2 separate regions of the Homo sapiens genome follow, and region 2 is linked to region 1. Evidence: fine-mapped expression QTL. Tissue or cell type: hippocampus. Region 1 holds a variant in brackets; the other region holds the start of a gene. All regions are shown on one strand. Distances are between the middles of the regions.

Region 1 (8,103 bases):
TGTGGGGCATTATATTGGTTGATTTTCTTATGTCGAACCATTCTTGCATTTCAGGAATAATCCCACTTGGTCATGATGTATGATCCTTTGAATGGGCCGTTGAATTGTTTGCTAGTATTTGATTTTTAGATTTTTCTTCTTTCATTCCATGTTTTCTTTGCCCTCAGCCAGGCCCTGGTTGGTTGGGGTTCTTCATCTAGTAGTATGACCCAAATGTTCATTCATGAAAGATCTGAACTTTCAGTAGGGTTCTGCCATTTTTTTGTTGGCGTTGTTTGTGATAACCTTTTACTGTTGGAATGGGAGTACCAGGAGGTGCCTCAAACAACGTACTGAGTCACTAAGTATAATAGTGAAACAAACCAATTCCCCTCTATCACCCCTTAACTCCCAAACTCCTATATTCTGGCTGTGGGAAAAACACCACCATATATTAATCACTGAATAAAGATTATATCAAAACCGTAAGATGGGGGCCTATCCATTCAGGGTGGTATCTCCCAACTGGTGCTAAGATAAGTCTTTGGTAGCCCATCCAACCATTCTATCAGGCCAGCTGCTCTTGGGTGATTGAACAAAAAGCAGGATCATTGAATTCCATGGCCATGAGCCTAATGCTTCACCTCTTTTGCAATGAAATCAATTCCTTGATCAAAGAAATGTTTTATGGGATATGATGAAGGTCCACAGGGCATTCTATAATTCTGTGGATGGTGGTGCTGGCAAAAGCATTACACGTAGAGACAGCAAATCTATATCCAGAATAAATTCCAGTGAGGACAAATTGCTTTTCCTTCCGTGATGGAAGGGATCTAATGTAATCAAGTTTCCACCAAGTGGCTAATTATTCTCCCAGGAAATGATGCCATATATCAGGGTCTCTGTTATTGGTTAAATATTCAACAGTGAAGATAACCAGGTCGGACTTGTGAGGCAAAGTCCATGCTGAGGCCATGCACAGCCTCTTCCCTGCCTCCTTGGTCACTCTGTACACAGGCCCATTGAGCAACCATTCTGATGGCTGGGGAAAGAGGCTGACTGCAATGCACAGAAAAGACTGTCTTGCCCACCTGATTATTGACAGCCCCCTCTAGAAGATGCTTTTGGATGAGCATTCACATGTGACAAGGTACCCTCAAAGTCTGCCTATCCAGAGAGGTCCGTCCTTTCCCAGACCACCTCAATACCAATCTCCCAACCTGATTTCTTCCAAGTCTCTGATGATCTAGCCAAACCATTAGCCTCTATACTAGTCCATAAGCCAGTATAGAGCCATACTTCTGGCCATCTTCCAGTCCAGGCAAAGTATAACAAACAAATGCGGCACATGAAGTAATGACATGACAACTGAGAGGACTCTCCTTTACCACTGTTCTTTTTTTTTTTTTTTTTTTTTTTGAGACAGAGTCTCGCTCTGTTGCCCAGGCTGGAGTACAGTGGTGCAGTCTCAGCTCACTGCAACCTCTGCCTCCCGGGTTCAAGTGATTCTCCTGCCTCAGCCTCCCGAGTAGTTGGGACTATAGGCACATGCCACTATGCCTAGCTAATTTTTGTATTTTTAGTAGAGACGGGGTTTCACCTTGTTGGCCAGGCTGGTTTCGAACTCCTGACCTCAGGTGATCTGCCTGCCTCGGCCTCACAAAGTGCTGGGATTACAGGCATGCGCCACTGCACCTGGCCACCACTCTTCTTTAGGGCCACCCTGAGTGGGACTGGAGTGCTGTAGCCACCTACTTCTGGACCATCTCTAAGCCAGGATGAGATTTTCCCCCCTCAATCAACTGGTCATAAAGACCTCCCTGTGTGGACATCAGTTTGGGTTGTAGGAGAGGAGACAGTGCAGAGTGGGGAGGGGGAGACGCTGTCTATCAGTGCATTTTGACAACTGCATTCGCTACATGGTCTACCGTCAAAGCCGCTGAAGACAAGAGTTTGGTCACATGTTTTCCTGTGGCAGTGCAGGGCTCACCAGCCTCCCAGCCTGCAGAGATAGCTTCTTGCTGCCGCTGACATCTGGGAGCTGGCCTGGCATCTACATTTAGGCCACGGTGTTCTCCTGCTGAACATAAATAATTTCACAGAACGTCAACATCAGACATGGCCACTCTGTGACTATGACGGATGAAGATAAAATAAGAGCATTCTGCAGTCATGTCGAAACATAGATGGAAATACCAACACTGTCCAAACCACGTCAAATCATCGAACCTTGGCCAACAGGAGTGATGACTGCTTCTTTACCAATGACAACTTCAGCTTCTCTCTAGTCTGCCTTCCTTCCAGATAAGATTTATTATGATAGGCCGGGTGCAGTGGCTCACACTTGTAATCCCAGCACTTTGGGAGGCCGAGACGGGCAGATCGTCTGAGGTCAGGAGTTTGAGACCAGCCTGGCCAATGTGGTGATACCCCGCCATTTCTACTAAAAATACAAAAATTAGCCAGATGTGGTGGTGCATGCCTGTAATCCCAGCTACTCAGGAGGCTGAGGCAGGAGAATCTCTTGAACCCAGGGGGCAGAGGTTGCAGTGAGCTGAGATCACACCATTGCACTCCAGCCTGGGCGACAAGAGTGAAACTCCGTCTCAAAAAAATAAAAATAAAAAAAGATATATTATGATAGTCAATCATGTAACCTCCTGCTTCCTAAGCATCTAATCCAGTGCAATCCCTGTTTCCTCGAGCTTCCTTCACTTCATGCAAGCCCAAAGCGAAGCCCTTTATTTTTTTAATTTTTGTGGGTACATAGTAGGTGTATGTATTTATGGGGCATATGGGATCTTTTGATACGGGCATACACTGTATAATAATATCAGGTAAGTAGGGTGCCCGTCACCTCAGCATTTATCCTTTGTTTGTGGGCCCCCCAAGGTGCCTGCGGTTCCCTCATGTTGTTGCAAATGACAGGATCTCATTCTTTTCTGTGCCTGAATCGTGCTCCATTGTGTACATGCACCACATTTTCTTGATCCATTCATCTGCTGATGGACGCTTAGGTTGCCTCCAAATCTTGGCTATTGTGAACAGTGCTGCAGTAAACGTGGGCGTGCAGACATCTCTTTGATACACTGACTCCTTGCTTTTGGGTATATACCCAGCCGTGGGACTGCTGTATCATATGGTAGCTCCATTTTTAGTTTTTTGGGGAACCTCCGAACTGTTCTCCATAGTGGCTGTACTAATTTACGTTCCCACCCACGGTGTACGAGGATTCCCTTTTCTCCCCATCCTCGCCAGCATTCGTTATTGCCTGTCTTTTGAATAGAAGCCATTTTAACTGGGGTGAGATGATATCTCACTGTCATTTTGACCAAATCTAAGCCCTTTCTAACACCTTTTTACTGAGACACCCTGTGGCTCCCTGTGGTGGGTGCTCTCCCTCCCTGTGATGAGCGGTGAATTGATCTTGTTCAACCTGGAGGTCTGTAGCTGCAGGTGCTGGCCCGGCCCCAGCCTGCTGCCTGGTGCTGAGGCCGCTTCTTTCTGGAAGCCAATGCTGTGGCAGTCGGGGTGCAGGAGGCAGAACCCCTGCAGGGAATTTAAGCAGGGCCGATTTACCAGATGTAACCGGGACTTACAAAGCTACCGGAAGGGTTGGAGGAGTCGGTTCTGGGCCTAGCCTCTGAGCATAACTTCCAGAATCAATTCGTTAAGCCGGTCCCAACTCCAGAGGGGACTGTAGGCAATGTGGGGGGACTGCATGCAAAGGATACAGACATATATATACACACATATGTACACTCACACATCTATGGGGTAAAGTGGCAGCCATGACAGTCCCTTCACCTGACTTGTCTAGAAATGCTCAGCTTCTGAGGCAGTGACCCTAGAGGGACAGAGTGCATCTGGGAGAAATGTGGAAGGGTCAGCTGAGTCCAGTGGGCTCACATGGAGAAAGATCAGGATCTGTGACTTCAGGGAAACGGGACGGGGTTCGGGGGCTAGGGGAGGTGGGCCTGGGTCCCGTGAGCACAGGTGGGTCCAGGGGTGGGTGTGGGAGGAGGCGGGCTGTGGAGGAATAGCTCACGCAGGGAGTTGGTGCATTTTCCCCAGTCGAGGTCTGACATACTGAGAGGCCGAGACCCAGGCCAGCAAGGGAGCCCGGGACACTGCCGGTCCCATGGGAATCCCCAGCCTTTTCCCTGACAGCCCAATGCCCTGTCAGAGAACAGCAGGGCAGGGGACAGCTTTGGGACAAAGATTCACTATTGAGGCGTGGATGTGT[C/T]TCCACCCCCCACCCCCTCCCCTCTCCGACAGCAGCAGGCCTGGAGCCTCCAGGGCCACTTGGGAAGGCAGGACTACAGGGAGAGGTGAGAAAATCAGCTTTTTTCCCCTCACACACCCCTTCTGGCACTGAAGAAGGTCGTCACTGGAGGTGTAAGGTGACACCACCATGCAGGAGAGGGGAGGCCTTCACCCAGGTTGCAGTGCAAAGGTGCAATCACAGCTCGCTGAAGCCTCAAGCTCCTGGGCTCAGGCGGTCCTCCCACCTCAGCCTCCTGAGTAGATGGGACTACAGGTGCTCACTACCGTGCCTGGGTAATTTTTTTTTTTTTTTTTAGTTTTTGTAAAGGTGGGAGTCTTGCTGTCTTAGCCAAGCTGGTCTCGAACTCCTGGCCTCAAGTGATTCTCCAGCCTCAGCCTCCCAAAATGCTGGGATTATAGGTGTGAGCCACTGCGACTGGCCTGCGCTGCACTTTTGAAAGCTCCAAAGGCTTACAGGTGTAAACGTTGAGGTTTGTGGTAGACAGTCTGCAGAAATGACCACCAGCTATTCCCCCTGCACACAAAAGCTGCAGCTCCCATAAGGAGGTGAGTCTATTTCCCGTCCCTTAGAATCGGACCTGGCTGTTGACTTCCTTTGAATAATAGAATGCGATATTGTGTCAGCTCCAAGCCAAACCTTTAAAAGGACTGACAGTCTCCTCTTTTGTCCTCTTGCAACTCATCCACCACATAAATAAGCTCAAAGCTAGACTCCTGGATGACAAGAGAGGATGCAAAGAGAAAGAGAGAGTTTCCTAGCCCCAAGCTAATCCAGCCATCCCTGATGAGGCAGCAGCTGTGTGAGTGAACGCATGGATATTCCATCCCCAGCTGGGCTCCTAGCTGAATGTAGGGCATGTGTGGCCTAAGCCAAAACCATGTAAACCAGAAGAACCATCCAGCTAAGCCCAGCCAACACTCAGATTCATAAGAAATAATAAATCTTTTAAATTTAAGACTGCTAAGCCTTGGGTTCATTATATAGCAACAAATAATCAATACAGAGTCCACAGCTCACCAAGATTAGGAATCCAGGTAAAACATCTGCTGCTGTGGGCTGGGATCTCAAAAGTTGCATCCTGGAAGTGAAGGTAAACTAAGTAAATCAGCCTTCAGAGAGACTGAAACCCACTTTTAGGGAGATTTTTCAGGAAAATCTCAAGCCCTGAAATTAGATTAAGGTGCTCTTTTATTGTTAGTGCTTCCAGGCATCTGGATGAAACCATTGAAATTCTTCTGGAGGAAGAGAATAACCCAAGTTTCAAGTTATTTCTACAGAGGATTTATCTAGTATATAATAAAAGATAAACAGGTCCATACTGAATAAGATTTAAAAAAAAAAAAAATCCAAGCAACAACAAAACCAAACAGATAACAACAGACCCATAGAGACCCAAGATACTGGTTTAATAAGACACAACAGCTTTAAAACTGCTATGCTTAATTGATAAATGAACTGTAGATTAAACACAGGTGAAGAGAAATATCAATGAACTGAGAGATATAAGATACATTATTCAGAACAGACCAAAAAAGTAATAAATAGAGAAGAGGGAGAAGAGACAAAGGTAGGGGAGTCTCACATAGGTGGAATTTGAGGCCCCCAGAAGGACAGAAACTGGACCAGAGCAAAACATTTGAAAAGCAAATGGCTGCAAATTTTTAAAAATGAATGTGGCCGGGCACACTGGCTCACGCTTATAATCCCAGCACTTTGGGAGGCTGAGGTGGGTGGATCACTTGAGGTCGGGAGTTCAAGACCAGCCTTGCCAACCTGGTGAATCCCCACCTCTACTAAAAATACAAAAATTAGCCAGGTATGGTGGCGCGTGCCTGTAATCCCAGCTACTCGGGAGGCTGAAGCAGGAGAATCACTTGAACCCGGGAGCTGGAGGCTACAGTGAGCCGAGATGGCACCACTGCACTCCAGCCTAGGTGACAGGGCCAGACTCTAATAAATAAATAAATAAAAAATAAGGGCCAAATAAAGACACTTGCAGCACAAAGGAGTTTGTCACTAACATTTACACTAAAGCAAATTGTAAAGGAGGTGTTTTAAGCAAAAGGAATCAGGAACTGACATGGATTTCTGTCTGTCTTGCTGGGGCTGCAGCTGCTCCTGAATTTCCCTTCTTCATTACCTGCCCCCGTGGACATTCCACTCCAGCATCAGAGACGGAGACTCTTGCTTGAGTTCCACTTAGTAGACACGACCCGGACAAAGCAGTTGCAGTGTCTCAGGGAGCCCACTGGACGCAGCTGACCCTTCCACATTTCTCCCAGATGCAGTCTCTGTCCCTCTAGGGTCACTGCCTCAGGAGCTGAGCATTTCTAGACAAGTCAGGTGAAGAGACAGTCATGGCTGCCACTTTACACCATAGATGCGTGAGTGTACATATGTGTGTATATATATGTCCGTATCCTCAACGAGGGCCAAAGTATCCAGTTTTTTTCTTTTTTTTTTTTTTTGAGACAGGGACCTTGCTTTCTCACCCAGGCTAGAGTGCAGTGGCACAATTATGGCTCACAAGAGCCCCAACCTCCTGGGCTTAAGCGATCCTCCTGTCTCAGCCTCCCTAGTAACTGGGACTACAGGTGTGCACCAGCAGGAGCTGATTGTGTGTGTGTGTGTGTGTGTGTGTGTGTGTGTGTGTGTGTGTGTGTGTGTAGAGGTAGGGTCTCACTATGTTCTCCAGGCTGGTCTCAAACTCCTGGGTTCAAACAATCCTCCCTCCTTGGCTTCCCCAAGTGCTGGGATTACAGGCCTGAGCCACTTCACCCAACTACAGTATCCAGTGTCTAAGTTTGTTCTTAAATGAGCTATGTGCTGGAGGGAAAAAGAGGAGCTTTGTCTACTCTAAACCAGATCGTAGAGGTCTTTTGTTTGTCGCCCTTGGGGTTTTTCACCAAGATGCCCTGGGCCTTTGGGATGAGCCGGATGGGCCTTTCCCGGACAGGCGGAGGAAGAAAGTTCAAGGTGAGCAGTGGGAGAAACTGCAGGCCCCCTGCTCCCAGGGGAAGGGGAGGTGGCCTTCAGGGGAGAGTCCATATGGGCGCCCAGAAACTGGAAACTGCGTCCCTGAAGGCTGCAAGCCCTCTGGACAGACAGGGTCACCCCCGAGTGAAGAGGGGCTTTGAAGACACATGGAAAAGGTGGTGAGTGGGGACTGAGTTGAAACCCAGGCCCTAAGTGGAAGAGCCTGCAGTTCCTAGGGTGCCTTCCTTCTTCCAGTCAATTCATCAATCAATCCACACCAAGTCAGTGCCTACCCCAGGGCAGACACTTGCGAGGCCCGAGGTCAGGAGGCCACAGGAGCCCCTTCCCCAACCTGAAGCCCTGGAGATGGCCTGGCTGGAGGGGACGACGGCCCGCAGCGGGGACCCGACTCACTTCTTCGTCCCCACCTGCCCTGGGGTCCGAAGGGAGCCGCGTGGGAAGCGGGGACGGGGAGCGTGTGGAGGGACCCCCGCGCTCCCGGGCCGACCCTCTGCGGCCTCTGCTCTGCGCAGTCCGTCCTCTTCTCCCGACCTGGCGTGCGTCTCCTGTTCCCCGGCCCCCCATCCCATGGGACCGTCCTTCCTAACGGCACTTCACCCCGCCCGGCCCACGAGGTGGTCCCGGGCCGGTGACAAGATCTGGACGTGGCGACTCCGGGAAGGGGCGACCGGGCGCGGAGAGCCCCTGGGACCCAGGCCTCAGGGACGCATCGGGGTCGGAGCTGGGCCCGGGGGCGGGGCTGGGGTGGGGAGGCTGAGGTTCCTTCGCCCCTTCCCTCCCCTCGCCCCCCGCAGCCTCGCGGCGCGTTTCCTGCCCCGCCCGCCAGGAGGGAGTGGCCC
Region 2 (8,103 bases), 130 kb before region 1:
AAGGGGGCGGGGTGGCCTTTTGGGGGATAGGGCGATGGAAGGGGAGCATGCCAGCTGACTTTCTGACGTGAGGGTGTCTGGGTCTTCAGAGGGTGCGGTTGCAGCCACAGTGATAAGGGTGTGAGGTGTCTGACCTACTCTGGCATTGGTGTGTGACACTAGGCCAGGCCCCTGTCCTTCTGGTCTGTGCTCTTGCCTGGAGCAGTGTACAGATGTGGGGAGCCCCTTCTCAGAATGTAGATGACTGGGGTTCTTGTCTGCCTCAAACCCTCCCAGAGCTCCTTGCTGCCCCCACATCAGGGATTGACCCCTCTGCTGGGCATTCTCAGCTTTGCACAATCTCTGCTACCTTCTTTTTCCAGTCTCACCTCCCGCTATGCCCACATCATCAGATCTCCTGAGCTGCAGCCACAGTGCCCAGGTCAGGCCTCCACCTACCCTGCTGTGATGCCCCCTTGCCCATCTTCCTCCTGGAGAACTTGTGCAAAGAGCTCTATCCATCCCACATCCAGGAGAACCCAATTCGCATTTTCACAAAGACACTTCTCTGCCTGACCTGGTTCTCCGTTTTGGACCATTGGATCGTGAATTTGGATTGGGTCTTATTTCTCTCAATGATCCCAGAATCCAGCATTGACATGGAGTCAATAATGCTTAATATTAATATTTATTAATACATGAATGTATTGTTTATGAATGAATGGGCAAAAGAATGGTGAGAAGATGGATGGATGAATGATGGGGATGGGTGGCGGTGAGATGAAGTGAGGACAGTGGACTGATGTTTATGTATGTGGATAATATAAGAATATAACTTAAGGGTAATAGATGAACACATGGACGAGTTAATTACTAGGTGGCTGGCTGATTGGTGGGGGATGAATAACTGTCTGTGTGAGTGATAGTGGATGAACGATGGACATAATGATGGAATGAGTATGTGGTGGGTAGAAGAATGTATGGCTAATGATTGGATGGGCACTGGAAGCATGGTAGAGGGTGATCCTAGATGGTGGATGGATATAATATGATGGATGGTAGATGCATCTATGTAGTTGGTGATTGATTAAGTGATGAAGAATAGATAAATACACAGTAGATTGATAGATGGAAAATGGACGGACGTGGATGCTGAATTGTTGGATCGATGGATACCACATGAATCCATACATAGTGGATATAAACTGCAGGCAATAAGTATTAATAGTAGATGGTGGATGCTTAGTGGGTAGATACATCATGGAAGTGTGGATGGATGGTGGATAAATAGTAGTGGATGATTGTGATGGATCTATCCACAGAGAATGGATGGGCAGATGGGACAGAAATACCAATGAGTATATGACTGATGGATGGATCATGAGTGGTGGACAAGTAAATGGTGGCTGCCTGGTGCATGAATGGGGACTGGATGGCAAATAAATGAATGATTGCTAGCTGGATGAATAATGGGTTGTGTGCTGTGGAGGTACAAATGGAAGGTGGATGTGGATAGATAACAACTGGATGGAATCTGGATGACTAATGATGAACAGGTGCTGAGCGGATGGATGAAGGTTTAAACAGTAGGTGGCTACAACTTGGAAAAGTGATGCATGAAAGATGAATGGTGGGTGTGTAGATGGAGAGGTGGTAAATGGATGCTTTAATGTACAGATGGAGGAAGATGGATACATAGCAAGTGGGTAGAGTGGATGATGAATGAAGATGGATACCGAATGGAGAAAGAATAACGAGTGTGGGATGGGCATGAATAGTGACTGGATGGATGGTGAGTGGATTGTAATGGTCGATGGATAATGGCAAATAAATGCTCACTGCTGTCTCTCTACTCTGTCCTCAGCACCTAAAACAATGTTTGGCACATAGAAGGCAGTCAATATTTTTTTCTAGAATGGATGAATATGAATGGATGCTAGATGGTACTTGGATGGATTTTGGATGAATAGTGAATTTTGGCTGGATGATGGGTGGATAGATAGAGGATGTTGTGAGATGGATAGTGAATGAATGGATACGTGGTGGATATGGATAAGAGATGGTGATGGTAGGCTGGGTGTGGTGGCTCACGCCTGTAATCCCAGCACTTTGGGAAGCCATGGCGGGTGGATCACCTGAGGTCAGGAGATCGAGACCAGCCTGGCCAACATAGAGAAACCCCGTCTCTACTAAAAATACAAAAATTAGCTGGGTGTGGTGGGCACCTATAATCTCAGCTACTTGGGAGGCTGAGGTAGGAGAATTGCTTGAATCCAGAGGCAGAGGTTGCAGTGAGCCGAGACTGCGCCATTGCCCTCCAGACTGGGTGACAGAGAGAGACTCTGCCTCAAACGAACGAACAAACAAACAAACAAATAAACACCAAAAAAGAGATGGTGATGGTAGATGGTTGGTGGATGGATGGAGGAATACAGTTAATAGAAATATGAATGGATGGCAAATGGTGAATGACTGGTGGGTGAATTGTAGATGGGTGACTTGTTGCTGATTGGATGGAGGTTAAGGGATAAATCAGGACAAATGAATAGTAGAGTGATGATTCACAATTAGATATGTGGATGGAGATGTGAATGGTAGATGGATGTGTTAAATATCTGATGGAAAGCTGTTACATAGTGAGTGATGGATGGATAGGTGGTGGATGGATCGATGGTGAATGAATGTTGGATCAATGGGTATTTAGTGGTGTATTGATGCTTGGTAAATGGTGGGTGCTGGTGGTGAATGGATGGGTGCATGATGGATGGGTGGTGGTTGCATATGGGATGGTGACTGGAGATGGATGGTTAATGGACATTGGATACTGGACGGTGGTTGAATGGTGGATTGTGAATGGATGGCTGGTGGTTGCATGGGGGAAGGTAGATGGTGGATTGTGGATGAGATGGATGTTGGGTTATTGATGGTAGATGGTGGACTGTGGATGGGATGGATGTTGGGGTATTGATGGTAGATGGTGGATGGTGGACGGGATGGATGTTGGGTTATTGAAGGTAGATGGTGGACTGTGGATGGGACGGATGTTGGGTTATTGAAGGTAGACGGTGGACTGTGGATGGGATGGATGTTGGGTTATTGAACGTAGATGGTGGGCCGGGCGCGGTGGCTCACACCTGTAACCCCAGCACTTTGGGAGGCCGAGGCAGGTGGATCACGAGGTCAGGAGTTCAAGACCAGCCTAGCCAAGATGGTGAAACCCCATCTCTACTAAAAATACAAAAATCAGCCAGGCGTGATGGTGGGTGCTTGTAATCCCAGCTACTCAGGAGGCTGTGGCAGATAATTGCTTGAACCCGTGAGGCGGAGGTTGCAGTGAGCCGAGATCTTCCCACTGCACTCCAGCCTGGGGAACAGAGCGAGACTCCATCTCAAAACAAACAAACAAACAAACAAACAAACAAACAAACAAACGGACGTAGATGGTGGACTGTGGACAGGATGGATGTTGGGTTATTGAAGGCAGATGGTGGACTGTGGATGGGATGGATGTTGGGTTATTGAAGGCAGATGGTGGACTGTGGATGGGATGGATGTTGGATTATTGAAGGTAGGTAGTGGACTGTGGACAGGATGGATGTTGGGTTATTGAAGGTAGATGGTGGATTGTGGACGGGATGGATGTTGGGTTATTGAAGGTAGATGGTGGATTGTGGACGGGATGGATGTTGGGTTATTGAAGGTAGATGGTGGATTGTGGACGGGATGGATGTTGGGTTATTGAAGGTAGATGGTGAATTGTGGACGGGATGGATGTTGGGTTATTGATGGTAGTGGTGGATTGTGGATGAGGTGGATGTTGGGTTATTGATGGTGGATGATGGATGGCAGATGGTGGGTCTCAGATGGTGGCGGGATGGCAAAAGATAGATGAATAGCTGTGAATGGTAGACGGACCGTGGCTGGACTGTGGGTATTGAATGGAAGTGGGATGTTAGATAACTGACGGTGGAGGCTTCCTGGTTGCAGGGTAGGAATTACATGGACCAGAGATTATGCACCTTGGCTCAGGTGTCAGGTCTGTGCACTGGGCTGAATGAGACAGCTTGTCCCAGGGCTGTTTTGCTCCTTTTTGGGAATGGAACTGGAAAGATGAGAGGGGGGCTGAGGGGTGACCCCCTCCCCCCCCCCCCCCCTGCTTCCTGCAGCGCATCCCAGTTTGGGTTTTTAGGTTTTTTTTTTTTTTTTTTTTTGAGACAGAATCTCAGTCTGTCACCCAGGATGGAGTGCAGTGGCACGATCCCGGCTAAGTGCAACGTCTGCCTCCTGGGTTCAAGAGATTCTCCTGCCTCAGCCTCCCAAGTAGCTGGGACTACAGGCACCTGCCACCGCGCCTGGCTAATTTTTTTTTTTTTTTGTATTTTTAGTAGAGACGGGGTTTCACCATATTGGCCAGGCTAATCTCGAACTCCTGACCTCAGGTGATCTGCCCGCCTCGGCCTCCCAAAGTGCTGGGATTACAGGCGTGAGCTACTGCGCCCGGCAGTTTGGGTTTTTTTTTTTTTTTTGGTCCTTTTTACTCCTGTCTTTATTCCCCAATAGGAAGGAGTCCTCTTTCCATGTATCTGGCCCCACCGAATTCTGCACCTCAAATTTCTGGACGCCAATCTTGAGGCTCAGTCTCAAGTGGCCAGGGGCAGGCCCTGGGGGAGGGGTCGGCTCAAGGGAAGATGAGGCCGGGCCCTTGCTGGGGGCTGGAGCTGGGAGGGCGCGGGCGCTGAGGACCGGCGGCCAGCCCCGCGGTGGGCGTGAGTGCGAGGGAGGCCGGGAGAGCGCGTGTGGGCGGGGAGCGCGAGAAGGAGAGCGAGCCGGGAGAGCGCGGAGCCAGCGGAGCGCGGAGGCCCCAGCGCCAGCACCCGCGCGGGCGGTGAGCGTGAGTGTGGCGCAGGGTCGCCCCTCCCCAGCCTGGCCCCGGCAGTGCGGGCCCCGGGAGCGCCCTGACGGCTAGGTGCGGGGTGGTTGGGAGCGGGAGGAGCATGGGGGGGGATTTGGGAGTTTTGAGTCGAGCTCCTTGGGGAACGGGACGGCGTGGGTTCGCGGGGTCAGCCCGGCTGTGGAACGCCATGCCTCCGCGCGCTTGTGTCCCCGGGGCTGTGCCCAGCAAGACCTGGGATCCCGCGGCGCTGGGGGTGGTGGGTGCCCTCGATGTGTGGTGCCCCGGCTGGCACTGGACCCTGGCGCCGGGCAGGGCAAGGCAGCCCTTGGGCACTTGTTCCCTGCTTGCCTGCCCCCGCCTGGCTCAAGCTGACAGCTCTATCATCTGCCTCTGTCATCCCTCTCTCTCTGGGCCAAGTGTCATCTGTGGGTCTGTTTCTGTCTCTCTCTCTCTCTCTCTTCTCCTCTGTCTCCAGCTCAGTCACCTCTCGCCTGGTCTCTGTGGCAGTATTTTTCTTGCCTCTCCCTCTGCCTCCTTCCCAAGGCTGGCTGGGTCTCTGTCCTGGCTGCCCTGGACTCTAACCTGAGTTCTGGGGTCCTGGGATGGGATCCAGAAGAGGCTTGATGGAGGGCCGGACCTGGGAGCAGTGGGGCACTGAGACATCCCTGGGCTTTGGGGTTGGGCAGAGGAGCCAGAGGTTGTGGCTTCACTGCCCGCTGCCCCGAGAGGCCTCCTGCAGTGTGTGCCCCTCCTAGCCCTCCCTGGGCCTCAGTGGGACCCCAGCTGACCTGAGTGGGGTGTTTGGTGAAAGAAACCTCATTTCTCAGAATAGCAGCCCTCTGCTTTGCTGGCGGCCACAGGACCACCCTCACCCACCCCAGCAGGACGTCACAGGCATTCCATCCTGCTGGTCTCTGCTCTCCCACTGCCTTGTCCCCTTCCTGCAGGGCTGCCCCCGCCCGTGGCCCCCTACTGCCTGCATGCCAGCCACTGCCACACCCCACCCCCATTTCTACCTCTGACCAGGGCGTAGCCCCAAGAGCCCACACGGCCCGAGCGCAGGTGAAGGGTCTGGCTGGTGCCAACTCCTGCCAGGGGCTCTCTTCCCAGAGCCCTTGCTGCCAGGGCTCCAGTGGGGCTCCCCCTGCTGTGGCCAGCCTGAGTGGGTGCGGCCAAGTGCAGGGGCAGGACTTCATTTCCCCCTGGGCTGTGGGTGCTGAGGGCCTGGCCCGGGGTGTGCAGGGTGCATGCTCTCGAGGAGGAAATGGGCACCTTGGCCTCTGGCTGACTTGAACCCAGTCCCTACTACTCCCAGCCTCCCGTCTCAGGAACGTTTAGGTCCCTAGGACACTCCGTGTCCTTCCTGCACTATTCCTGTCTCAGAATGTGCTTCTGTCCTCCCAGCTGGCCTAGCTACCTCCTGCTCACCTCTCAGGCCTCAGATCAGCAGACTTCTTCCAGGAAGCCTTCCCAGGTCTCCCCTCCTGCCTGTGCCCTCTTGCAGGCACACTGTGCGGCCAGGGTCCAGTGCCCCCTCTGGCGGCGGGCTCAGGCAGGGAGCAGTGCAATATAGGTCCAGCTGGAGCCATGGGCACTGGGCCTGGGCTGGGGTGGAGTGGGGTGGGCTTAGCACCTGAAGCCTTCGGGGGAGTGTGGATCCAGCATCAGGCCAACAGCAGACACCCCATTTCTGCTCCCAGTCCTCGTGCAGCTTAGTGGCGCAGTGGCGGCAGCAGCATGAGCACCCCCCGGCCTGCTCCACCACAGCCAGGCGCTGCTGAGGGGGCTGGAGGCCCAGAAGGGAAGGTATGCGCTCGGGACCCTGGGGGGGTCGGGAGGGAGCAAGCCTCAAACTCTGTCCCATGACTTGGGGCATGCCTTGCCTTGCTGCTGGCCTCAGTTTACCCATCTGGGTGGGGGAGATCATTGCTTATTTATTTATTTATTTATTTTTGACACAGAGTCTTGCTCTGTTGCCCAGGCTGGAGTGTAATGGCGTGATCTTGGCTCACTGCAGCCTCCGCCTCCGGGGTTCAAGCAATTCTCCTGCCTCAGCCTCTGGAGTAGCTGGGATTACAGGTGCCCACCACTATGCCCAGTTAATTTTTGTATTTTTAGTAGACTCGGGTTTCACCATGTTGGCCAGGCTGGTTTCCAACTCCTGACCTCAGGTGATCCACCTGCCTTGGCCTCCCAAAGTGCTGGGATTACAGGCGTGAGCCACTGTGCCCGGCTTGTTGCTCTTTTATAAAGGTATAATGGATAAAAAAAATTGAAGGCCAGCATTCCTGGCTTACTTAGCACTCCTTCCTGACCTGAGGACCCCAGGGATTGTCCCCAAGGCACGCTTTGCTCTCTGCTGAGTGAGGAAATGCCAGGGTTCCCTGCCCCTAGTGTCACCTTTTGGCAGGGGATGGGGAGGTGCTGATGAAACTAAAAAAAAAAAAACAAGCTCCCTACACAGGGTCGCAGCCTTAGTATTCTGAGTGCTAGAGCCCAGCTAGAGCCCAGCCATTCTCCTTGTTGGGGAGCAGTGGGGCTAGAGAGGGGGACCAGCCTGGAGTCATATAGGGACCAGTCTGGAACTTGGGGTTGCAGACACAGCCTCCCAGGCAGGGTGGACAGAGGTGAGCACCAGGACTCCGAGCTGCAAACGCTGCTGGCCTGGACCTCGTTCACCCCAGTGGGCAGACTTGGAGAGGAGCACCCTTGGTTGGGGGCAGGAAGGAGAATGGCACGTGGGGAGGGAGAGCAGGCTGGGGGATGAGCCCCCCTGGCTGGCAATGCCAGCATGAGGGTGGCCCCTGGGAGGATCCAGCCTTTGGGGTAGGGATGGGGTCCCTGCTCTGCTGTCCTCTGACAGCTCCTTCATTCCACAGACATCCCAGTCCAGTGACACCTGTTCTCACACTTGAGGGTCACATATGGTCCGTGGTTAAAAGAGAGTCTGGGCTGGAGCTCAGGAATGTGCACTGTTCAGGGATCTTGCTGCAGTGGCCGAGGGCCATTCAGCTAAGTCCCCCCTGCTGCGTGGCTGTCCTTCCTCGAGGCCCTTGTGCTCTTTTGGGAAGGTGGACCCAGCAGCTTCCCTTCTAGGTGGAGAAATGGGAGACAGGGAGCTCCAGGCAGGGCCATCTGCCCGAGCACAGGCGTGGGGGTGGGACAGGGCAGGCAAGTCAGGGCCACCGGGGCGCTGAGGGACAGAGTTCTGCACGTAGCACTGCAGCCTC

The links. PIP is the estimated chance that this variant, and not a neighbour inherited with it, causes the effect.
Region 2: it holds the start of LBHD2, and the variant in region 1 is fine-mapped to the expression of LBHD2 in hippocampus (GTEx, PIP 0.96).

The regions. Positions count from the first base shown.
Region 1 is chr14:103,212,594-103,220,696 of GRCh38, forward strand. No RefSeq gene overlaps it. Among named protein-coding and RNA genes, the nearest start is that of LINC00605, 28 kb to the left of the region's middle. The variant C/T (reference allele first, on the strand shown) is at 4,226.
Region 2 is chr14:103,079,403-103,087,505 of GRCh38, forward strand. It overlaps LBHD2 (LBH domain containing 2), which reads left to right and starts at 4,808. Exons shown (of 4, transcript NM_001330236.2): 1 at 4,808-4,945; 2 at 6,574-6,679. The coding sequence starts at 6,611.